Regions from separate parts of the Homo sapiens genome. Here all the other regions are linked to region 1. Evidence: fine-mapped expression QTL. A gene starts in region 1. Each other region holds a variant in brackets. All regions are shown on one strand. Distances are from middle to middle.

Evidence for each region. PIP is the estimated chance that this variant, and not a neighbour inherited with it, causes the effect. A credible set is the group of variants that fine-mapping cannot tell apart.
Region 2: its variant is the best candidate, but not a certain one, in a credible set for the expression of LAT2 in blood mononuclear cells (TOPMed, PIP 0.56).
Region 3: its variant is the best candidate, but not a certain one, in a credible set for the expression of LAT2 in whole blood (INTERVAL, PIP 0.68).

Annotation. Positions count from the first base shown.
Region 1 is chr7:74,206,396-74,214,577 of GRCh38, reverse strand. LAT2 (linker for activation of T cells family member 2) reads right to left here and starts at 4,572. Exons shown (of 14, transcript NM_032464.3): 1 at 4,490-4,572. RefSeq lists enhancers at 1,499-1,558, 1,689-1,768, 3,639-3,758, 4,979-5,088 and silencers at 3,449-3,538, 4,649-4,698.
Region 2 is chr7:74,183,939-74,192,120 of GRCh38, reverse strand. It overlaps EIF4H (eukaryotic translation initiation factor 4H), which reads right to left. Exons shown (of 7, transcript NM_022170.2): 2 at 4,323-4,510; 3 at 2,384-2,448; 4 at 2,203-2,299; 5 at 1,815-1,874. MIR590 (microRNA 590) reads right to left here and starts at 923; the gene lies at 827-923. The variant G/A (reference allele first, on the strand shown) is at 4,582.
Region 3 is chr7:74,145,137-74,153,318 of GRCh38, reverse strand. No RefSeq gene overlaps it. Among named protein-coding and RNA genes, the nearest start is that of EIF4H, 25 kb to the left of the region's middle. The variant T/C (reference allele first, on the strand shown) is at 3,593.

The DNA.
Region 1 (8,182 bases):
ATTTTCATATATATATATTTTCATATATATATATATATATTCATATATATATTTATATATATTTTCATATATATATATTTATATATATATTTTCATATATATATATTTATATATATATTTTCATATATATATTTATATATATATTTTCATATATATATATTTATATATATATTTTCATATATATATATTTATATATATATTTTCATATATATATATTTATATATATATTTTCATATATATATATTTATATATATATTTTCATATATATATTTATATATATATTTTCATATATATATTTATATATATATTTTCATATATATATATTTATATATATATTTTCATATATATTTTCATATATATATTTTCATATATATTTTCATATATATATTTATATATATTTTCATATATATATTTTCATATATATATTTATATATATTTTCATATATATATTTATATATATATTTTCATATATATATTTATATATATTTTTTCATATATATATATTTATATATATTTTTTCATATATATATATATATACATATATATGGCTGCAGTGAGCTGTGATCATGCTACTGCACTCCAGCCTGGGCAACAGAGTGAGACTCCGTTTCAAAAAATAATAATAAGGAGACCTGGCCCCCTGGAGATGGCTGGGGACAGAGTTGAGGGTGGTGGGGTCTCTGAAGGGGTTGAGTATGGTGGGCATTTGTGGAGCCAACACTCCCGAGTGTCCACTCTCCCCCACCCGCCGTGTTCTTCCCACCCTGGCCACCAGTGAGGAGGGCTTCTCCCCATCCCACAGCTGGGGAAGGTGAGGCTTGGAGCAGTAAACAGGACTTAAAAGGGAGGAGCTCCAGCAGGGCGTGGTGGCTCACGCCTGTAATCCCAGCACTTTGGGAGGCCAAGGCGGGCAGATCACGAGGTCGGGAGTTCGAGACTAGCCTGACCAACATGGTGAAACCCCATCTCTACTAAAAATACAAAAATTAGCCGGGTGTGGTGGCACACGCCTGTGATCCCAGCTAATCAGGAGTCTGAGGCAAGAGAATCACTTGAACCTAGGAGGTGGAGGTTGCAGTGGGCCGAGATCATGCCACTGCACTCCAGCCTGGGCAACAGAGCGAGACTCCATCTCAAAAAAAAAAAAAAAAAAAAATGGCCGGGCACAGTGGCTCATGCCTGTAATCCCAACACTTTGGGAGGCTGAGGCGGGTGGTTCATGAGGTCAGGAGTTCAAGACCAGCCTGGCCAAGATGGTGAAACCCTGTGTCTACTAAAAAAGAATACAAAAAATTAGCCAGGTGTGGTGGTGGGCGCCTGTAATCCCAGCTACTCAGGAGGCTGAGGCAGAGAATTGCTTGAACCAAGGAGGTGGAGGTTGCAGTGAGCTGAGATCACGCCACTGCACTCCATCCAGCCTGGGCAACAAGAGCGAAACTCTATCTCAATAATAATAATAATAATAATGGAGGAGCTCCAGGCTGCCTACCTCCTGCCTTGGGATCCCCCTGAGGTCCACCAGGACCTGGGCTGTCCCCCTTGAAAGCTGTGTGGCTTTGGACAAGTCTCAGGACCTCTCTGGACTTCCCAAATCCCTGCGGTAAGATGACAGGGAATCTCCATGCGGCCCTGAGCCTCTGTAAGAGGCGCATCACAGAGAAGCCACCAGGCCTCTCCCCAAAAGCCAAGTGAGTCAGTGGGAACAAGTGAATTTCTGAGCCGTGTGACTGGCACGACCCACGTCACCCCGGGAGGTTGTCCGAGGAAAGCTCTGCTCTCTCTTCCCCATGGCCCGCCTGGGCACTGCCCTTCTCCCTCCTCGAAACTCTCCTTGCCTCAGTGCCCCCAACCCGGGGTGTACCCCCAACCCCTCCAGCATGGCCCAAGTTCATCTCAGGCTTGTGAGGTTGGAGCAACTTGTCTTGCAGGAGGGCTCATGGGACCAAATCTAGCCTCTGCCTGAGAGCCCCCCGCCTCAGTTTTCTCATCTATAAAATGAGGTCGGGCTGGGTACAGGGACTCACACCTGTAATCCCAATACTTTGGGAGGCTGAGACAGGAGGATCACTTGAGTTTGAGACCAGCTTGGCCAACATGGTGAAACCCTGTTTCTACTAGAAATACAAAAATTAGCCAGGCGTGGAGGTGCAAGCCTGTAATTCCAGCTACTTGGGAGGCTGAGGCATGAGAATCACTTGAACTCAGGAGGCAGTGAGTTGCAGTGAGCTGAGATCACGCCAGTGCACTCCAGCATGGGAGACAGAGTGAGACTCCATCTCAAAATAATAATAATAATAATAATAAATTAAATAAATGAATAAATAAAATGGGATCAGGCTGGGCGTGGTGGCTGACGCCTGTAATCTCAACACTGGGAGGCCGAGACAGGAGGATCGCTTGAGGCCAGGAGTTCGAGACCAGCATGGACGATGTAACAAGGCCCTGTCTCTACAAAAAAATGAAAAAATTAGGCAGGCGCAGTGGCACATGCCTGTGGTTCCAGCTACTTGGGACACTGAGGCAAGAGAATTGCTTGAGCCCAGGAGTTGGAAGCTGCAGTGAGCCAAGATCACACCACTGAACTCCAGCCTGGGTGACAGAGCAAGACCCCATCTCTAAAAACAAAAAATGAAATTTAACAAACAGTCATGTGTCTGCCCCCAGACTGAATACATCCTGCGCTGTTGGCCGGGTGCGGTAGTTCACACCTGTAATCCCAACACTTTGGGAGGCTGAGGCGGGCAAATCATCTGAGGTCAGGAGTTCAAGACCAGCCTGGCCAACATGGTGAAACCCTGTCTCTACTAAAAATAAAAAATTAGGCCAGGCACGGTGGCTCACACCTGTAATCCCAGCACTTTGGGAGGCCGAGGCAGGCAGATCACAAAGTCAGGAGATTGAGACCATCCTGGCTAACATGGCGAAACCCCGTCTCTACTAAAAATACAAAAAATTAGCCGGTCGTGGTGGCAGGCGCCTCTAGTCTCAGCTACTCGGGAGGCTGAGGCAGGAGAATGGCATGTACCCGGGAGGTGGAGCTTGCAGTGAGCCAAGATTGCACCACTGCACTCCCAGCCTGGGAGACAGAGCAAGACTGTCTCCAAAAAATAAAAAATAAATAAAAAATAAAAAATTAGCCAGGTGTGGTAGCACGTGCCTGTAGTCCCCAGCTACTTGGAAGGGTAAGGCAGGAGAACTGCTTGAACCTGGGAGGTGGAGGTTGCAGTGAGCCGAGATCACGCCACTGCACTCCAGCCTGGACAACAGAGTGAGACTCCGTTTAAAAAAATTCTGTGCTCTCTCTCTGTCTCTGTCTCCCTTTGTGTCTCTGTCTCGCTCTCACTTTCACTCTCCCATCCAGGTTCTGAAAGCAGGTGGGCTGAGGTGGAGGGAGCGGAGGGTGGACCCTCTGAGGCCCCCAGGGGCCGGCAGGGCTGGGCGGGGTGGGGAGTGGGGGCTGCCACAGACCACGGTTCTGCAGAGGCCAAAATAGCACTAAAGGGAAGTGGGCAGTTTTCATATGAACAACGATTGCCAAGAGCTGGCTTCGGGGAAGTTCTCGGGGCTGGGCTGGAGGAGCTACAGTGTCTGAATCCCGCCTGGAAGGACGCTCGAGACCACCCTGCCGGTTCTCCCAGCCTTCTCCGAGCTGAGCTGTGGTTGGGGACACTGGGGTTGGGGAGGGGGCAGCCTGGCTTGAAGCCCTGGATGGCTTTATCCACTGGACTCTGCTCTGGGGTCTGTTGGTTTTTTCATTTAGTTTTTAATTATATTTTTTTATTTTTATTTTTTAAAGAGATGGGAGTCTCACTATGTTGCTCAGGCTGGTCTCCAGCTCCTGACTTCAAATGATCCTCCCGCCTTGGCCTCCCCAAATGCTGGGATTACAGGTTGAGCCACCGTGCCCGGCTGGTCCTGTTGCTTTTTCCAAATAACTCTGGGCTTCAAATGAGCCTAGCTGGGAGGGAGAGAGGGAGGCGGGCGGGTGCAGGAGGGGCCTGAGCAGCCCTGGTCCCAGGGACAGAGTTGAGGGCCAGGTAGGGGGCTGGGCAGGGAGGCAGTGGGGGTTCTTCACCTGACCTGGGGCAAGACCTGGGCCCTGGCCTGTAATCCCACCGTTTTCCCCTGACCTGTGTAGGGGGTTACAGTCCCATTTCACGGATGAGGAAACCGAGGCTCCCAGGCCAGGGCAGCCACTGTTTTGGCTCTCGGCCACTTACTTCACCAGTCTCTGGCAATGATGGGACCACCCTGGGATGTCCCAAGGCTACACAGGCTGGACAGGGGAAGGCGAGGGCAAGAGAGTGGCCAGAAGCCCAGAAACAAACTGACCCCTGAAGTGCCACAGAGCCTGGTGCCAGGGTGAGAGTGGGGCTGCGGGAGGGGGCGCCAGGCATCCAGGCCTCTTCCCACCCCACCCAGTGGGGCCAGGAGCTCCTGGGGGATGGGGGACAGCCTGAGGACTGAGGCACCCCTGGGAAAGGCTTACCTGAGAGTCCAGGGTTCCTCACCACGGCCGCCCCATCCTGAGCCCGCACACCTGCCCAAGCTGATGCCAACACCACTGACACTGGCGGGCGGGCAGGGCGGGCTTCCTGCCAGCCACTGAATCATCCGTACATCCGCCGCACTGCCGGACAGGCTCAGCTATGAAGAGGGCGGTGGGGGGAAGGGAGGGGAGACGGGGGAAGGAGGCGGGAGAGAGAGAGAGAAGAGAAACAAAGTGAGAGGGAGAAAGAGAAGAAAGAGAGATAGGACCGGGCGAGGTGGCTCACACCTGTAATCCAAAAACTTTGGGAGGCCGAGGCGGGTGGATCACGTAAGGTCAAGAGTTTAAGACCAGCCTGGCCAACATGGTGAAACCCCGTCTCTATTAAAAATACAAAATTAGCTGGGCATGGTGGCATGTGTCTGTAATTCCAGCTACTCGGGAGGCTGAGGCAGGAGAATCGTTTGAACCTCAGAAGCAGAGGTTGCAGTGAGCCGAGATCGCACCACTGCACTCCAGCCTGGGTGACAGAGGGAGACTCCGTCTCAAAAAACAGAAAGAAAAAGAGAGAGACACAGCAGAGAGACACAAGAGAACAGGAAAATATGGACACACACTAAACACACACATAAACACAAAAAGTCACACAGAGAGGAAGAGAGATACACTCCAATAGACAGGGAGCAAGATAATGAAACTGAGGTGCTCCTGCAGATGGCAGATATGGAGACACACATACGCTAAAAAGACACACACAGGCAGAAATTCACACCCATGGGCCGGGCGCGGTGGCTCATGCCTGTAATCCCAGCACTTTGGGAGGCCAAGGCAGGCAGGTCATGAAGTCAGGGGTTCAAAACCAGCCTGACCAACATGGTGAAACCCCATATCTACCAAAAATACAAAAATTATCTGGGTGTGGTGGCGGGTGCCTGTAATCCCAGCTACTCGGGAGGCTGAGGCAGGAGAATTGCTTGAACCCAGGAGGTGGAGGTTGCAGTGAGCCAAGATAGCGCCACTGCACTCCAGCCTGGGTGACAGAGCAAGACTTCATCTCAAAAAAAAAAAAAAAAAGAAGAAGACACACACAGGCAGAAATTCATACCCATGGGCCAGGCACGGTGGCTCATGCCTGTAATCCCAACACTTTGGGAGGCTGAAGCAGGAGAATCACCTGAGGTCTGGAGTTCAAGACCAGCCTGGCCAACATGGTGAAACCCCATCTCTACAAAAAATTTAAAAATTAGCTGGGCATGAGATGGACCAAGACACACACAGAGAGACACACAGAAAGATACAGAGAGCCACAGACTGTCAGAGACACACACAGATGGGGAGAGAGCAAGAAACAGGGAGATAGAGGCCAGGTGCAGTGGCTTGCACCTGCAATCCTAACATTTTTGGAGGCTGAGGCAGGAGGATCGCTTGAGAACAGGAATTTGAGACCAGCCTGGACAACAGAACGAGACCCCATCTCTAAAAAAATTTTTTTAATTAGCTGGGTGTGGTGGCACACACCTGTAGTCCCAGTGTTTTGGGAGGCCAAAACGGGAGGATTTCTTGAGCCCAAGAGTTGGAGGCTGCAGTGAGCCGTGACTCTGCCACTGCACTCCAGCCTGGGGGACAGCAAGACCCTGTCTGTCTGTAAAAACAATAAATAGGCCGGGCGTGGTGGCTCACATCTGTAATCCCAGCACTTTGGGAGGCCAAGGCAGGTGGATCACCTTATTTAGGTCGGGAGTTTGAGACCAGCCTGGCCAAAATGGTGAAACCCCATCTCTACTAAAAATACAAAAATTTGCCGGGTGTGATGGTGGGTGCCTGTAATCCCAGCTACTTGGGAGGCTGAGGCAGGAGAATCACTTGAGCCCAGAAGGCGGAGTTTGCAGTGAGCCAAGATCGTGCCACTGCACTACAGCCTGGACAACAGAGCGAGACTCCATCTCAAAAAAACAAAACAAAAACAAAAAAACCCAAAAAACACAACAAAAAAATTTAAAATAATAATAATTATTATTTAATTAATAGCTCAATGGCCTTGGGCAGCTGTTTAATGGTCAATAGCACAAGGCAGTCCACCCACTTGTGGGATGTGGCTTTATTGACCTCAGGTGCCAGAGCATCCTGGCCTCCACAGGGAACTATCTCACTCGGTCCTCATGTCTGTGTGGATGGCAGCCACGGTGTCCACCCCAGGGCTGGGCACAGGAGCACCGCTGGGCAGGAGTGGGCTGTGGTCCCTCTGCCTGTGCTATGAGCCGTTCTCTGCACCCCGATGCCAGGAGCCTCATCTGTGCAGTGGGGTGATGAGACCCCCAAGGCTGGGGTGGAGCAGGGCTCTCCTTCCTTCTCCCACCCTTTAGCGCCCTCGCTGTCTGCAGCCTCTGACACTCGTGCCGTCCACTCCTCCACCTGTCTTTGGTCACTTGTTCCATCTGCCCTGCCCTCGTGGCCTCTGCAGGGGTCTCTCTGTCCCTGCCCTGCCCACCTACATCCCGCATCCTTTGTCTCTGTGTCCATCTGTCTCATCCTCTGGGACTCTTGCTGTCTGACCCTCTGTCTCTATTCCTCGCCTGCTTTTTTTTTTTTTTTTTGAGACAGGGTCTCACTCGGTCCAGAGGTGAAGCTGAATTTGAACCCAGACCCCAAAGCCTGGCTTCCTCACTGGGACCCCCTGACTGGCTCCTCCTCACACAATGGGAACAAGCCTGCAACAGTTTCCCTTCAGCCCCAGACTGTGCACCTGGATAGAGGTTACCTGCTGTTCTTTCCCCTTTTTTAAAATTTTTTTTGAGATGGGGTCTCACCCGGTCACTCAGGCTGGAGTGCAGTGGTGCAATCTCAGCTCACTGCAACCTCTGCCTCCCAGGCTCAAACGATCCTCCCACCTCAGCCTCCAGAGTTAGCTGGAACCCCAGGTGCATGCCACCACGCCCAGCTAATTTTTGTATTTTTTTTTTTTTGTAGAGACAAGGTCTCACTATGTTGCCCAGGCTGGTCTTGAACTCCTGGCCTTAAGCGATCCTCCATCCTCAGCCTCCCAAAGTGCAGGGATTACAGGCGTGAGGCCACCGCGCCTGGTCCCATTGAACCCGGTGTTTATCCCACCTGCTGGAGACACCAGGGAAGAGCATGACGGTCCCCCACCTCCTATATGTCTGGCATTTCAGAACCTTGGCCCCCAGTCCTGGACGCCTCTAGGCCTGGGACCCTGGCTCTGGGGTCCCACTCTCAGCTTGGGGCTAGGTTTCTCTTTTAGCCTTGGCCGCGGTGTCCCGGCCTGGCCAGAAAGAGGTGGCCGCGGAGACGAGCGGCTAGGCCCGCTGCTGCCACCTCGTGGACAAGGAGGGTAGCACATGCTCCAGAGACCGGTTCTGAGAGATTCTGCAGGCGTCCGTGTCAGGAGCTCACCCTGCCTCCCTCTGTGGCCGGACTAGGACTGAAGCTAGGGCCATCAGACGCCCAGACCTGTGCCTGTGCGAGCAACCGCCACCCTCCCTTGTTCCATCCAGCAATGCCAAGTGCACTGGATTCAGGACCACGTTTCCTTCCCACGGTAACCGGTAAGAAGACAGAGGCTCACAGAGGTGAAGCTGGATTTGAACCCAGAGGCCAAAGCCTGGCTTCCTTGCTGGGACCCCCTGACTGGCTCCTCCTCACACAATGGGAACAAACCTGCATCTGTTTCCCTCC
Region 2 (8,182 bases), 22 kb after region 1:
GAAGCAGATGAACAAGGATCTCTCATCAAATCTGTTGGTGGGGGCCGGGCGCGGTGGCTCATGCCTGTAATCCCAGCACTTTGGGAGGCCGAGGCAGGTGGATCACGAGGTCAGGAGATCGAGACCATCCTGGCTAACATGATGAAACCCCGTCTCTGCTAAAAATACAAAAAATTAGCCGGGCGTGGTGGTGGGTGCCTGTAGTCCCAGCTACTTGGGAGGCTGAGGCAGGAGAATGGCATGAACCCAGGAGGCAGAGCTTGCAGTGAGCCGAGATCGCACCACTGCACTCCAGCCTGGGCAACAGAGCAAGACTCCGTCTCAAAAAAAACAACAACAAAAAATCTGTTGGTGGGTTTCTAGGAAGCAAACTATTCATGAGAATCTTCAGAGTTTTCTTTACAAAGCTTAGTTTAACACTGGCTATTTCTGATGATGAAATGTTTTTGCTTTCTTGGTACTTTTCTGTTGCTCTATTTTGTTTTTTACATGAGCAGGTATCATTAAAAAAAATAGCACCATCCTATTAAAAAGTAAAAAAGATCTACTCTCGCAAATAACGTATAAAGTATCAAATTAGCCATTACTCCATCGAGTGAGCCCACATAGGGTTTGAGATGTCACCAAAACACTGCAGTTCCCACCAGAACTGGTGGCGGCCAGGCCATGGCCGTGTTCACTGTGTCTCTGCTTGAGCGCCAGTGGCCAAGCTAAGCCAAGGGTAGAAAGACGTTAGTATGTGGGCAACTTCTATAACACCTGCGAATACCAAACTGGCAGGGGAAAGGCCGTTCCCTGAGCTGCTGGTTGGCTCTAAGAAGACAGCTGCTGCATGTTTCAATCAGAGACTAGCTTATACATAAAATTACAGATTGACTTCACCATACTGCACTTTTATGAATAAGCTCATTTCTGACTGGCTACAGGACTTTTAAGAACTATATTATTCAACAGGTAGTCGTCACCTGTTCAGCCAAAGCTGAGTTTTTAAAAATCTCAGACTCACAAGACAGCGTGCACCAGTCCCTCCCATACTCACCCACTACTTTACACCGGTTTTGTTTTGATGGGGGGAGGGTGCTGACGTTCTATACAGCACAGCATTGACAGCACATCCCAAGTTTGCGGGAAAGAAAACAAATTTGTTTTTCTCTTCCTACCTTTCTGGGTTACAACTGAAGTTTTTATCATGTGCATATATAAAAAATTATACTTTTGTAATTTAAAAACAGAAAGTAAAGATGATAAAAATGCTTAAAATCACCCTGCAGGGCAGAGGCCTGGCGTGTGGACTGATGCTTTGTGCTATACCACCAGCTGCTCTGCCTGGGTTGGCTAAGAAAGAGAACGGCGAAGTGCATCAGGTCCACCATCAAGGGACTGGACCTCCCCACAATCCTCCAAGAAAAAAAAGGGCCATCAGGACTACCTTTCACCATGTAAGAACCCAAACCTCTATCCTATGTTTTCCAGAAGGAACAGTACTTCTCTTGGTGCCATACACAAAACCACAGAGGAGTTTCCCTGGGCTAGAGTCTGAGAAAGACTGCTGAGCGAGCTCAAGGACCCAGGCCCGTACACATCCAAGGAGCTGCAGGCTAACAAAGGTGACCACACAAGGTGCATGGGGCTCAAGTCCTGCCCCCACAGGCTCTAACAGAGGCTTACTTGCATGCCTGGGCACCCTGCAGGAGAGTTGTATTTGTTAAAGGAACTAAATAAGTAGTCCGGCCAGGCGGGCTACTCGTAAGAAACAGAGAACAGCAGCAAGGCTCCTAGGAAAAATTAAGTGGTGATACTTTAAATACTGATACCAGAATTGAAGTCATCCCGGGAATCCCATCCACCTCTAGATTCTCGAGAGCTACCCATTCCTGAGGATACACAAAAAAGATAAAGTTGAGGTCGTGTCATTACCTTGCTGCGCAAACATGGAAAAATTCATTTGGAAGACATACAACTCAAGTGATGGAAGGTTCAATGAAATCATTTTAAGAGCTTTTGCTTCCAACAGAAAACAAAAAACGCCAGGCTTGCAGAAGCATCAGCCATTCTTTCTAGGATTTTACGCAAACTTTTAAGAGCTCACGAGAACCTATCACACCTATGAGATAATCGAGTTCTACTAGGAACGTTCACGAGTTGGAATTGGTAGGCATACTGCAAATCTTTATGATGTTCAGCTTTAGAAGAACCAATCACCTCTGTCATCTGGTCCACCTTTTCTGAATCCAAAGCCACCTTTATCTTGTTTTCTGCCTTCTGCAATGTCCACACGAAGTGACCGATCGCCCAACAGCTAATGATAAAGGGAAAATAGTGTAAGTATTGGCAAAGAAAACAATCTCAACTGCTATGACAGAGAAAACCCGAGGATACTTACTGCACCATCGTATGTCAAGGCTTCCTTAAGGGAATCCACTTCATCGAATTCTACATAGCAGAATCCTGGAAAAGAAAAGAAGACCCCGATTTCCTCAAGTAATTCTGGGTTAAAGATGTGGGAAGATCCTATTCATACTACTTCTCCACGTCACAACTACCATTCTGTTGTCTAGATGATGGCAGACTAGGAGAGCCTTTCAATAGATAGAACCCTGACTGGCATTCCTCCCTCTCAATTCTATTTTATCAGTCAGAAAATGCTAACTGAACATGCACTGAAATAGCAGCTGCGTTTCTAGAAAGCTTTCTTCTTGAATGTTTTAACCATAATATTCAAACCTTTCTCAGGCCATCTGCAGAGCTCTTCTGACTTCTGAATGACTATTTAATCTAAGTGAGGATTAGATTTCGTAGATTTCAAACTTGGTACCTAAAATGCTCTGAAGAAAGAGGCTTAAAGTGCCGATTTAACTTACTACTCAGGTAACTGACATAAAATTTGCTTCACAAAGCTGAAAATATATCCTTGGCAATCAGGGCATTCTTCTCTGAATGTTAATTAAAAGACAGGCAGCCTGGGTCCAAGTACCTGTTACTGACAACCTGTGTCCCTGATGCCAGGGGTCTGACATTGCCCCTTCCTTGCTGTCTGGAGTCTAAATCTAGTTCATTACTCCCCAGATGCTGGCACTACACCCTGCATCCCCTCTCCCCCAGCGTCCTTGCCCTGTGTATAATAACTTAATAATCACACTTCATCTTTGAAGCCCACTAGACCGCAAGTGCTCTAAAGGCCTGAGTCCAAACTTTCCCTGTTTACCAACTGTGTGTTAAGAACATACTGCCTTGGCTGGAGGGATGTCCCCCCAGGTTTCCTCCCTAAGTGGATTCAATGTTGAGAATAATGGAGAAAACTACCCCCAACTTCACAGAAGCAACAGACACCCAATCTCATCTTCTAGAGCTGCTCAAATGAAGATGGTCCTTCATGAGCCAAACTCCAAAGCCTGCAGCGACTGACCCAGCCCAAAGGCTAGGCTCACCCACACACTCCAACCCAAAGTTTAGTTCCTAATGCTTCCTGGAGCTTACTTCACAAGTGTAACTGATATATTTGTTTTCACTGTTTGATTACACACTACATGTGGCTTCAGATTCTGAAGTCAAAAAGAGTAAGAGTGCCACCGACACACAAAACCACCCAGGTCAGCAAGGCCTTCTCGACTGCTGGCACAGCTCCCCGCCCCAAGTTACCCCATACTTGTCACAGATGTGCTTTTGGGTGGATTATGCGGGCCAAACATCCTGGGTCCTAGCATCGTGCACTTACACAGCAGGCACACTTCCTTCAGGAAGCCCTGCAGGCAGGAGAATGCTGCTCGGATCCCTTCTTCTTCCTGCTCTTTGCTCCCGCACCCTGCAGACACACGACCTATAGACACCATATCTGAAATCTCAGCCAGCCCTCCCAAGCACACTCTCCAAATTTACAAATGCATACTGACAGCACTGGCTGCTTCTCTTCTGGGTTTTATGATTACTGGATGACAGTACCATATGATTACTGGATTAACTACCAAGGAAAATCTACGAGTCATTCCAGGAGGAATGTGCCTAAGAGTCCTCGGCTCTATTCCTCTCTCTCCTGGGGAACTCCTTTACTGGCAGACAGGACTGCTGTAGAGGTCAGGCTCACAAACCTGGGCATATGCCATGTATTTCTATGAACTACACTGTGTACAAAACATTTTCCCCTAAGTGAACTGAAGACCTATGAGTTGAAGAGTTATGTTTCTTTCGGCCACTTAGACCAGGCAAATGTTTAAAACACTTTCTTGATTACAGCCTCTGGTTCACAAATCTATTTTTATTTAGAACCCCTTCCCATCCTCCCCTACACTTTACAGTAATATACAATAAGAATCCCCCAAACTCACCTTTAAATTTATCTGTGTCTTTGTCTCTGACTAGCCGTACACTCCTTATGCTGAGATCCTTAAAGATAGCATCTATGTCGCCCTGAACCGTATTGAAAGGTAGATTTCCTACGTATGCTGTGTAGGGGGGCTCTGTGGGCAACTCCTTCTGGCTACGGGAACCATGGCCACCAGCACTGCCGCGGGACCTAGGAGGGGAGACAAACAGGATTCAAGTGTGCCCAGAGTGGAATAAGCAAAACAAGTAAAGCGGTCTTCC[G/A]CTGAGCTACGCCGCCAGCGCCCCAGGTGAGGCACTCTGCTCGATGTACCACAAGACTGTTACAGAGAATGGCTGGAGAAACAAAAAAAAAGGAAAAGAAAAATTTTTTGAGACAGACTGTCACTCTGTCACCCAGGCTGGAGTGCAGTGGCACAATCTTGGCTCACTGGAACCTCTGCTTCCCGGGTTCAAGAGATTCTCCTGTCTCAGCCTCCTAAGGATGCTGAGATTACAGGCATGTGCCACCACACCTGGCTAATTTGTGCATTTTTAGTAGAAACAGGGTTTCACCATGTTGGCCAGGCTGGTCTCCAACTTCTGACCTCAGGTGGTCTGCCTGCCTCACCCTCCCAAAGTGCTGGGATTACAGGTGTGAGCCACCATGCCCAGCCCAAACGTAACACACCTTCCTAAGACAACTGCTTCTCTCCTATTCACTCAGAATCTGTATCTGCAGTATTTACATCCTAAAACCTAAGCAAGTACCCTCCTTCACACACCGTGGTTCTAAGAAATACAGAAATGGACAGTCTAGAAGTAATGTTGTATTCAGAAGAAGGATTACTGAAGTTGTTTACGTTTAACACATTCATACATAATAGAATTATTTCTCCTACCGCTTGAACCTGGGAAGCGGAGGCTGCAGTGAGCCAAGATCGCACCACTGCACTTCAGCTCACGCGACAGAGACTCCGTCTCAAAAAAAAAAAAAAAAAAAAAAAAAAAAAAAAAAAAAAAAAAAAAAAAAAAATTTCTCCTTGTTGCCTGATTATGGGCATAAGAATGTCCTAATAAAAATTTTAGATGTCACACAGCAAGTACTGACGTACCTAACACTCTCGTGCAATACTTCACAGGGTCCTCAAATACATGCGTATGGCGTGCATTACCAATCCATTTCAACCTCGATGTCATCTCCTCAGCTGTATCAAGCGTCGTTTACTCTGCATAGGTATTGGTTTAAATCTAGCCTCTGTCACTTACTAGCATATGACCTTGAGAAGTTATTCAACTTCTCTAAGCTTTATTTTATTTGTAAAACTGAGTTAATCCTAATACAGCATTTTGGGAGGCCGAGGTGGGTGGATCACTTGAGGTCAGGAGTTCAAGATCAGCCTGACCAATGTGGTAAAACCCTGTCTCTACTAAAAATACAAAATTAGCTTGGTGTGGTGGTGCATGCCTGTAATCCCAGCTGCTGGGCAGGCTGAGGCAGGAGAATCGCTTGAACCCAGGAGGTGGAGGTTGTAGTGAGCCCATTGCACTCCAGCCTGGGCGACAGAGCGAGAGTCCATCTCAAAAAAAAAAAAAAGACATCAGAATATAGTATAAATAGATTATTATATTAAACGATATTTGCCATAAGAATGCCCCAGGAACGACTTAAAGTCGTTAGAAGTGAAGTGCCAAGATGGCCAACATTTGTTTTCAAGCAGGTCAGCATAAAGGGCATGTGTGCCGGTATACAGCAAGGATTCAGCAAACAAGGCAGAATAGTCACTTCTGCATCCACTAGCGTCATCCAACTGTACCATTATTTCAACCTTATTGTAGATTTGAAAATTTCCAAAATAAAACGTTTGGAAAACTCAGGAGGAAAAAAAAATTAAGGGGGTGATTTTTTTTTGAAACAGACATTTAACCCATTTCCTGTTTGCTCCAAGAATACCGTGCTGGCAGCCAACTGCAGTTTTTTTTTCTAAACGGGAAATGCGTTCAAATAAATGAGATCCTTCACAACAACCCAAGACCTGCCCAAAGTCACCCTCTTTGCAGGGGAAATATTAATATCCATCTTAGAGAGCAACCTGGTCTTTCATCTACATACTGCCAGAAACACAATGGAAATTCCACTTCTTCCTGAAGATAAATTCCAGGTGTCTTGCAGACAAATATTATTCATTAAAGCATTTTTCTAAAGTAGAAGGGTCAACCAAGCTGTGATGATTCTTTGATGGTTAAAAAAAAAAAAGCTTTTAAGTTTCATAATTCACAATTCCGGTACTTTCCAATAGGAAGTTCCACGTTCTGTTCTAAGACCACCAGAAAATAGGTTTACAAGTGAATTGCATCCTACCTGCCCACTTCTCCCATCTTTTCGGGCCTAGTAAATGTGACTTACTTTGCATTTCAATAACCTTTGCCAATAGTACTCTATCGCTGATATCTCCGAAATCATAAATCCTAAAATATTTTCAGTAAGATACTATTTAGGACGGGATAATAAATATATGAGTTACAGTATAAAGCCGGGCCCAGTGGCTCATGCCTGTAATCCCAACAGTTTGGGAGGCTGAGGCGGGAGGATCACTTAAAGCCAGGAGTTCAAGACCAGCCTGGGCAACACAGTAAGACCCCATCTCTATAAAAAATACAAAAAATTAGCCGGGAGTGATGGTCCACACTTGTAGTCCCAAGCTACCTGGGAGGCTGAGGTGGGAGGATCACCTGAGCCCAGGAGGTTGTTGCTGCAGTGAACTGTGATGGCACCACTGCACTCCAGCCTGGGTGACAGAAGGAGACTGTCTCCAACTGAAGAAACAACAACAACAACAAAAAGGCGGGGCACAGTGGCTCATACCTGTAATCCCAGCACTTCGGGAGGTCAAGGTGGGTGGATCACTTGAGGCCAGAAGTTCAAGACCAGCCTGGCCAACATGGTAAAACTCCGTCTCTACTAAAAATACAAAAACTAGCCAGGTGTGGTAGCACACACTTGTAATCCCAGCTACTTCAGAGGCTGAGGTGGAGCTTGCAGTGAGCTGAGACTGTGTCACTGCGCTTCAGCCTGGGCTACAGAGCGAGACTCCATCTCAAAAAAACAAAAACAAAAAAACACAAAAAACAAACAAAAAAGCACAAAAAACAACAACAAAACCAAACAAACAAAAAACAAGATACAGTATAAACATGTGGAAAACCATAAAAATGGAGGGTCAATGTTAAAAACAGTTTAAATTCATTACTCAACATTAAACATCTAGTGATGCGTAATGATGTTAAAAGACTGTCTTGTATGTAAGCAGCTCACAGTTGTGTGGGACGTATAAAACACATGTATATATGCAGGTATGTTTGTGTGTATGAATGTGTAACATATACATAAAAACTAAAAAGGAGGGTGAGGATGAAGAGAGATGATAAACTCTCGGGTGTTTGATGTAGTTGCTAAGTAAGGAAAATGGAGGTGCGAAGGCTTGCTAATTGTGCTCGAACTTACAGAGTAGAGGAACTGTGGAACTGAGATCAGGCCAGACTTGACCCCTGATTGAGCACAGGAAGCCCAGGTGAATGCCAGTAAGATGACGGGGCACTGCTAAAAATGCACTAGGACAGGAAGGTGGCTCTGGCTTTGGAGAAGATAGAAAAATCTAGTTTGGGGCAAACCATTTTTGAAAAGTTGGCACGTTACCAAATGGCAGCACCTAACAGCTAACTGGTGATATAATTCTGGAGCAAAGATACACCAAAGCCCACCAAACTGTTCAACTCACTCGTGCCTCACAAAACCACCAGTGGCTTAATACTCTAGACTTTTCAATAATTACCAAAGTAGTCCTAAATATTCCCATACCCTACCTGATGTAGTCCCTTCTACAGG
Region 3 (8,182 bases), 61 kb after region 1:
AGATGTTGGCCAGGCTGGTCTTGAACTCCTGGCCTCATGTGATCCACCCGCCTCGGCTTCCCAAAATGCTGGGATTACAGGTGTGAGCCACTGCGCCCAGCCTTTATTTTTAAAAGTAAGTTTACAGCTGGGTGCGGTGGCTCACGCCTGTAATCCCAGCACTTTAGGAGGCCAAGGCGGGCAGATCACGAGGTCAGGAGTTTGAGACTAGCCTGACCAACTTGGTGAAACCCCGTCTCTACTAAAAATACAAAAATTAGCTGGGTGTGGTGGCACACGTCTGTAGTCCCAGCTGTTCAGGAGTCTGAGGCAGGAGAATCGCTTGAACCCGGGAGGTGGAGGTTGCACTGAGCCGAGATCGCGCCATTGCGCTCCAGCCTGGGCAATAGAGCAAGACTCTATCTCAAAAAAAAAAAAAAAAAAAAAAAGTAAGTTTACTTGCACAATATGCAAGATTCAAAAACTATCCATGAGGCCAGGCACGGTGGCTCACAGCTATAATTCCAGCACTTTGGGAGGCCGAGGCCGGGGGATCACTTGAGGTCAGGAGTTCAAGACCAGCCTGGCCAACATGGTGAAACCCCATCTCCATTAAAAATACAAAAATTAGATGGGTGTGGCGGGCGCCTGTAATCCCAGCTACTCAGGAGGCTGAGGCAGGAGAATCGCTTGCACCCAGGAGGCGGAGGTTGCAGTGAGCCGAGATCGCACCATTGCACTCCAGCCTGGGCAACAGAGTGAGTCTCTGTCTCTAAAAAAAAAAAAAAAACAAAAACCTTCCAGGGGTATATGGTATAAAGTTTGTCTCCCGCATACTCTGGGCAACAGGCCATCCAATTCCCCTTCCCAGTGACAACTATTGTCCCTCAACAAGTTCTCAAGGGCCATATGGATTTCCTTTTGACCTGCCAAACAGATCGGGAGTGCCTGTGGGGCAGGGTTGATCTTGTCCGTTCCCCGCAGGCTCTCTGCGGACACTAAGGAAGGGTGTGATGCTTGGGCAGATTGCAGCCATGTGAGGACAGGGGCTGGTAAGAGGGAATATGAGAGCTGTAAGGAGGGCTCCAGCCTCACACTCGACTTTGTGAACCCCTCCCTGGCTGAAGAAAGGACAGCAGCACTACCGACAAGCTATCAACCACCAGCTTCTTGGAGGGTTCAAGGGTGGGAATGGGAATTTGTTCCTGGCCAGTGCCTTCTCCATAAAATCAGTCATTGCTGTTTTTGTATTAAAATTTTTTTCTTTTTTTCTTTTTCTTTTTTTTGAGACAGAGTCTCACTCTGTTGCCCAGGCTGGAATGCAGTGGCACGATCTTGGCTCACTGCAACCTCCACCTCCTGGGTTCAAGCAAGTCTCCTGCCTCAGCCTCCCGAATGGCTGGGACTATAGGCGCCCACCACCACGCCCGGCTAATTTTTGTATTTTTAGTAGAGACGGGTTTCGCCATGTTGACCAGGCTGGTCTTGAACTTCTGACCTCAGGTGATCTGCCCACCTCAGCCTCCCAACGTGCTGGGATTATAGGCGTGAGCCACCGTGCCCGGCCTTATTTAAATCAAGCCCCTGCCTTCTCTGTTAGAGAATATCGTGACTGTGATCAAGTATCAAGTACTTGAGCCCCTTCTCCTTTTTTCTCTTTCCTTGTTGATGGCACCAGCTCTCTGCTGGAGAATATCTTTTAGCGTTAAACACAAACAAAGAAACTAAGAACAACAACAACATCAAAAAGTGCAAGGCTGCAGTAAGCCCTGATCACACTGCTGCACTCCAGCCTGGGCGACAGAGCGAGACTGTGTCTCAAAAAAAAAAAAAATTCTTTTTATTTTCTGAGACAGGGTCTCGCTCTGTCGCCCAGGCTGGAGTGCAGTGGTGCGAGCCTGGCTCAGCCCATGGGGATGGTGGTGAGCTCCTCCATTTATTTATTTATCTGGAGTCTCACTCTGCCACCAAGGCTGGAGTGCAGCAGTGCAATCACAGCTCACTGCAGCGTCAAATTCCTGGGTTCAAGTGATGCTCACACCTCAGCCTCCCAAGTAGGTGGGACTACAGGCACACCCCACCATGCCCAGCTAATTTGTAAAAACTTTTCTGTAGAGATGGGGGATGGTCTCATAATGTTGCCCAGGCTGGTCTTGAACTCCTGGCCTCAAATGATTCTCCTGCCTCAGCCTCCCAAAGTGCTGGAATTACAGGCATGAACCACTGTGCTCTGCTGGATAATGACCTTTCTCGAGCAATTACTATGTGCTCTGCTGTATCGGGTACCATCTAGTTTGATCATATATTAGACATGCAAGATAAGCTTTATCCGCTCCCTCCCCCTTTTTTTTTTTTTTTTTTGAGACGAAGTTTCACTCTTGTTGCCCAGGCTGCAGTGCAATGGCACGATCTCAGCTCACTGCAGTCTCTGCCTCCTGGGTTCAGGAGATTCTCCTGCTTCAGCCTCCTGAATAGCTGGGATTATAGGCGCCTGCCATCACGCCCAACTAATTTTTTGTATTTTTAGTAGAGATGGGTTTCACCACGTTGGCCAGGCTGGTCTTGAACCAGCCTCAGCCTCCCGTGATCCACTGGCCTCGGCCTCCCAAAGTGCTGGGATTGCAGGTGTGAGCCACTTTGCCCAGCCAGCTTTCTCCCTCTTTTATGCTGACCACGAAGTGTCTGCCAAGAGTCATTCGTGCATTCCTCATTCATGCACTCAGTATCTTCTATGGGCCATGAAACTGTGTTAGACGTTGGGGAAACAAAAGTCTAAGACTTAGCCAGGGCCGGGCGTGCTGGCTCACACCTGTAATCCCAGCACTTTGGGAGGCCAAGACGGGCGGATCACAAGGTCGGGAGATCAAGACCAACCTGGCTAACATGGTGAAACCCTGTCTGTACTAAAAATACAAAAAATTGGCCGGGCGCGGTGGCTCACGCCTGTAATCCCAGCACTTTGGGAGGCCGAGGCGGGTGGATCACGAGGTCAAGAGATCGAGACCATCCTGGCCAACATGGTGAAACCCCATCTCTACTAAAAATACAAAAAATTAGTCGGGTGTGGTAGTGGGCACCTGTAGTCCCAGCAGCTACTCTGGAGGCTGAGGCAGGAGAATGGCGTGAACCTGGGAGGCGGAGCTTGCAGTGAGCCGAGATCACGCCACTGCACTCCAGCCTGGGTGACAGAGCGAGACTCCGTCTCAAAAAAAAAAAAAAAAAAAAAGACTTAGCCAGGCATGGTGGTGCGCATCTGTAGTCCCAGCTATGTGGGAGGCTGAGGCGGGAGGATGGCTTGAGCCCGGGGGTGCCAAGACTACAGTGAGCTAAGATTGTGCCACTGTACTCCAGCCTGGGTGACAGAGCGAGACCCTGTCTCAAACAAAACAAAATGAGAAAAAATGTCTAAGACACAAAGAATTGAATCAACACTGGGAAAGTGGGTTGTGAGTTATTTTCCAAGCACATAGGAGCCAATCTATACCCCACCCCAATTCTGGCCCAAACTCCATCCAGATTTTGTTGTTCTCCAGGGGGCTATATCAGAATTTTGGCAGAGAAAGAAGGGCTATGAAACATGTACTGAAAAACCTCTCCATATGTTTCTGATTTG[T/C]CAGGCAGGGAGAACCAGAAAACCTTCCTATTGAAACTCTTTGAAATGTTTAATACAATTAAAAAAAATTATTTTCAATGCCCAGTTGAGCTCCCATGAAAGAAAGGGAAATCCTAGGAATCCAGAAACAAAGAGGAAACTAAACGCCACAGATGATAGGCAATGAATTGATCACGTCTCTGCTCTGAATGGTCACTGAGGGTCAGTGGCCAGGAGCTTGCTTTAATGCCCGTGTCAGGTCAGGAGATGAGGCCCTAGGCTAGAGTTACTAGATAAAATAGGACATTATAGGATGTATGCACTTTTTTTTTTTTTTTTTGCAAAATATGGCTAATTTAAAAAAAAATTAAAGCAATATGGAGTAAATTAAGCTAAGGGCCCCCATGCGCATTAGAAGGATGGGGTGGAGATAGGAGAAATTCACACCTTATGTAAATGAAATGCCCAGCCCTCATTGGTTTCTTATAAAAGCTTTTGCATTCAACTGTAAAAATGGCCTCTTTTGGCTGGGCACGGTGGCTCATGCCTGTAATCCCAGTACTTTGGGAGGCCGAGGTGGGTGGATCTCCTGAGGAGAGTTCGACACTAGCCTGACCAACATGGAGAAACCCCGTCTCTACTGAAAATACAACATTAACTGGGTGTGGTGGTGCATGCCTATAATCCCAGCTACTCAGGAGGCTGAGGCAGGAGAATCACTTGAACCCGGGAGGTGGAGGTTGTGGTGAGCCGAGATCATGCCATTGCACTCCAGCCTGGGCAACAAGAGTGAAACTCTGTCTCAAATAAATAAATAAATAATAATGGCCTCTTTCAGACCCCCTCTCCACGGCAGAGAGCTTTCTTCTTTAGCTTATTAAACTTTCACTCCAGCCTCATCCTTGGTGCCCATGCTCCTTAATTTTCATGGTTGTGAGACAAAGAACTCCGAGTGATACTTCAGACAATGAGAGACTACTACATTGAGGTCCAGTTCAAATGGAAATTGTATCTGGACCCAGTTCAAATGGAAATTGTGCCTGAGATCCCTTTGAAATGTGATCCTTGAAAAGCCACACAGTCTGTGAAAGGGTAGACTGGAGATCATGAGTTCATCTACCTTGAGGAGTGACAAACTTGCCTGCCTCAGCCTGATAATTCAAAGAATTCAAAGCCCTGACCTGGCTTCACATATGTGTGGGTTTCCAGATCATTCCACAGAAATAGTTCAGCCACCTGCAAGCCCCCAAGTCAGAAATAAAGATATTCTTTTTTTTTTTTTTTTAATTGTTGTTGTTGTTTTGAGACAGGGTCTCACTCTGCCACCCAGGCTGGAGTGTGGCAGAACAATCTCGTCTCACTGCAGCCTCAACCTTGTGGGTTCAAGTGATCCTCCCACCTCTGCCTTCCAAAGTTCTGGGATTACAGGAGTGATCCCCCAAGACTGGCCATTATTCTTATTTTTTAAATAGAGATAGGATCTCACTTTGTTCCCCAGGCGGGTCTCAAACTCCTGACCTCAAGCATTCCTCCTGCCTTAGCTTGCCAAAGTTCTGGGATTTCAGGTGTAAGCCACTGCACCTGGCCAAGATATTCCTAAGGAAGAAAAGAAAGTGAGGAGTGGGAGAATTCCCCGAATCTATGCCCCCAGGCTGCAAGGGATTCTCAGACAATAAAATGAAAAACAGGCCGCGGGTGGTGGCTCATACCTGTAATCCCAGCACTTTGGGAGGCCGAGGCTGGCGGATCACAAGGTCAAGAGATCGAGACCATCCTGGCTAACACGGTGGAACCCGTGGGCAACAGAGCGAGACTCCGTCTCAAAAAAAAAGAAAAGAAAAACAAAAGCAAATGAAGAGTTTATGGTTAAGCAATGTCATACAAAATGTCGCCCAGGCTGGAATGCAATGGTGCGATCTCGGCTCACCGCAACCTCTGTCTCCTGGGTTCAAGAGATTCTCCTACCTCATCCTCCCAAGTAGCTGGGATTACAGGCATGCGCCACTGCACCTGGCTAATTTTGTATTTTTAGTAGAGACGGGATTTCTCCATGTTGTTCAGGCTGGTCTTGAACTCCTGACTTCAGGCAATCCACCTGCCTCGGCCTCCCAAAGTGCTGGGATTACAGGCGTGAGCCACTGTGCCTGGGCAGTCAACAATAATTTATTATGCAATTAAAAATAACTAGAAGAGCATAATTGGAATGTTTGTAACAAAGAAATGATAAATGTTTGAGATGATGGATACCCCATTTACTCTGATGTGATTATGATGCATTGTATGCCTGTATCAAAATATCTCATGTACCTCATAAATACATATACCTACCACATATCCATAAAAATTAAAAAAAGAGGCCGGGTATGGTGGCTCATGCCTATAATCCCAGCACTTTGGGAGGCCGAGGCGGGTGGATATCTTGAGGTCAGGAGTACAAGACCAGGCTGGGCAACATGGCAAAACCCCGACTCTACTAAAACTAATAATAAAAAAATTATCTGGGCGTGGTGGCACACACCTGTAATCCCAGCTACTTGAGAGACTGAGACATGAGAATTGCTTGAACCTGAGAGGCAGAGGTTGCAGTGAGCCGAGATAGCTCCACTGGACTCCAGCCTGGGCGACAGAGCGAGACTCTGTCTCAAATAAAATAAAATAAAATAAAATAAAATAAAACAAAATAAAGCTGAGCATGGTGGCTCATACCTGTGGGAGGCTGAGGTGAGCAGATCTCCTGAGGTCAGGAGTTCGAGACCTGCCTGGTCAACATGGTGAAACCCCATCTCTACTAAAAATACAAACAATTAGGCGTGTGGCGCATGTCTATAGTCCCAGCTACTTGGGAGGCTGAGGCAGGAGAATTGCTCGTACCCGGGAGCCAGAGGTTGCAGTGAGCCGAGATCATGCCATTGCCCTCCAGCCTGGGCAACAAGAGCGAAACTCCATCTCAAAAAAAAAAAAAAAAAGAAAAGAAAAAAAGAGGCCAGGTGTGGTGGCTCACACCTGTAATCCCAAACTCTGGGAGGCTGAGGCAGGTGGATCACTTGAAGTCGAGGGTTCCAGACCAGCCTGGCCAACATGGTGGTGAAACCCCATCTCTACTAAAATACAAAAATTAGTTGGGTGTGGTGGCGGGCGCCTGTAATCCCAGCTACTCGGGAGGCTGAGGCAGGAGAATCGCTTGAACCTGGGAGGTAGAGGTTGCAGTGAGCCAAGATCATGCTACTGCACTCCAGCCTGAGTAATAGAGACAGACTCCATCTCAAAAAAAAAAGAAAAAAGAAAGAAATGTCAACGCCCTTGAGGAAATAATTTAACCTGTGTCCCAACCCCCCTCACAGGTCCTCTTGACCAAGGAAGGCTTAGTGTGTCAAGGTGTTTACGGAAACCTTCTGACCAAACAGTGGCTGGGCACTAAGCAATGCTGATTCAGAGATGGACCCCTAGGAAGCCAGTCTTGAAAATAAAAGCAAGAATCACAAAACAAAACAGAGGCTTCCTTTAGTGGCTTCAAGTTATTAAACAACCAAACAGACAACCAGCAAACAACAACAATGTCAAAATCTACAACAGCTACCACCAGGACATCAGAATTTAGAATTACAATACATGATTTAAAATGTCCAGTTTTTGCTGGGTGCCATGGCTCACACCTGTAATGCCAGCACTTTGTGGGGCCGAGTCAGGAGAACCACTTGAGCCCAGGAGTTCCAGACCATCCTAGGCAACATAGTGAGACTCTGTCTCTACAAAAAATAAAAATAAAAATAAATTAGCCAAGTGTGGTGGCTGGAGCCTATAGTCCCAGCTGCTCAGGAGGCTGAGACAGGAGGATCACTTGAGCCCAGGAGGTTAAGCTTTCAGGGAGCCAAGATTGCACCACTGCACTCTAGCCTGAGTGACAGAGTGAGTGAGACCTTGTCTCAAAAATAAGTAAAATAAGATAAAATAAAATGTCCAGTTTTCAACAAAAATTTGAGACATATCTCATTTAATCCTCCCAACAGAGGAGTTTCTACCTCTCATTTGGGGAAAATAAGGCTCAGGGAGGTAAAGTAGTGTAAACCAAAGAAAATGACTGGCTGGGCATGGTGGCTCATGCCTGCAATCCCAGCACTTTGGGAGGCTGAGGCAGGAGGAACACTTGAGCCTGGGAGGTGGGAGGTTGCAGTGAGCTGTGATTGTGAAGCAGGATGTTGCCTAAGAACTAGCCAGCTGCTTTGGTGCTGGTAGGGGTGAACTCCACTCACTCACTACTCCACCCCTCACAGGAGAGGGAGCACAGGTGAGCAGGTGCAGGAGACGGGGCGAGAGTTTTTAGGCGCCAGCAAGAGCCATCTCCATACCAGCCCCATGATAGTGTCTAGCGGAGGGTGCCGGAGACTATTGAAGCCCCAGAGGCAGTGTTAGAGTACTCTTTTAGCTCTGCTGTCTGTGAATGGCTTAAGTGTTAACAGCTTAGTGGAGGATCGGTGTGACAGCCTTTTGCATCCACACTCGTGGCACCCAAGTTCTTTTTCAGTGTCCAGGAGGAATTAGGTCACACAAATGAATTGAAGATGGTAAATGCAGGAGACTTTATTGCTGATGAAAGTGGCTCTAAGCGGGAAG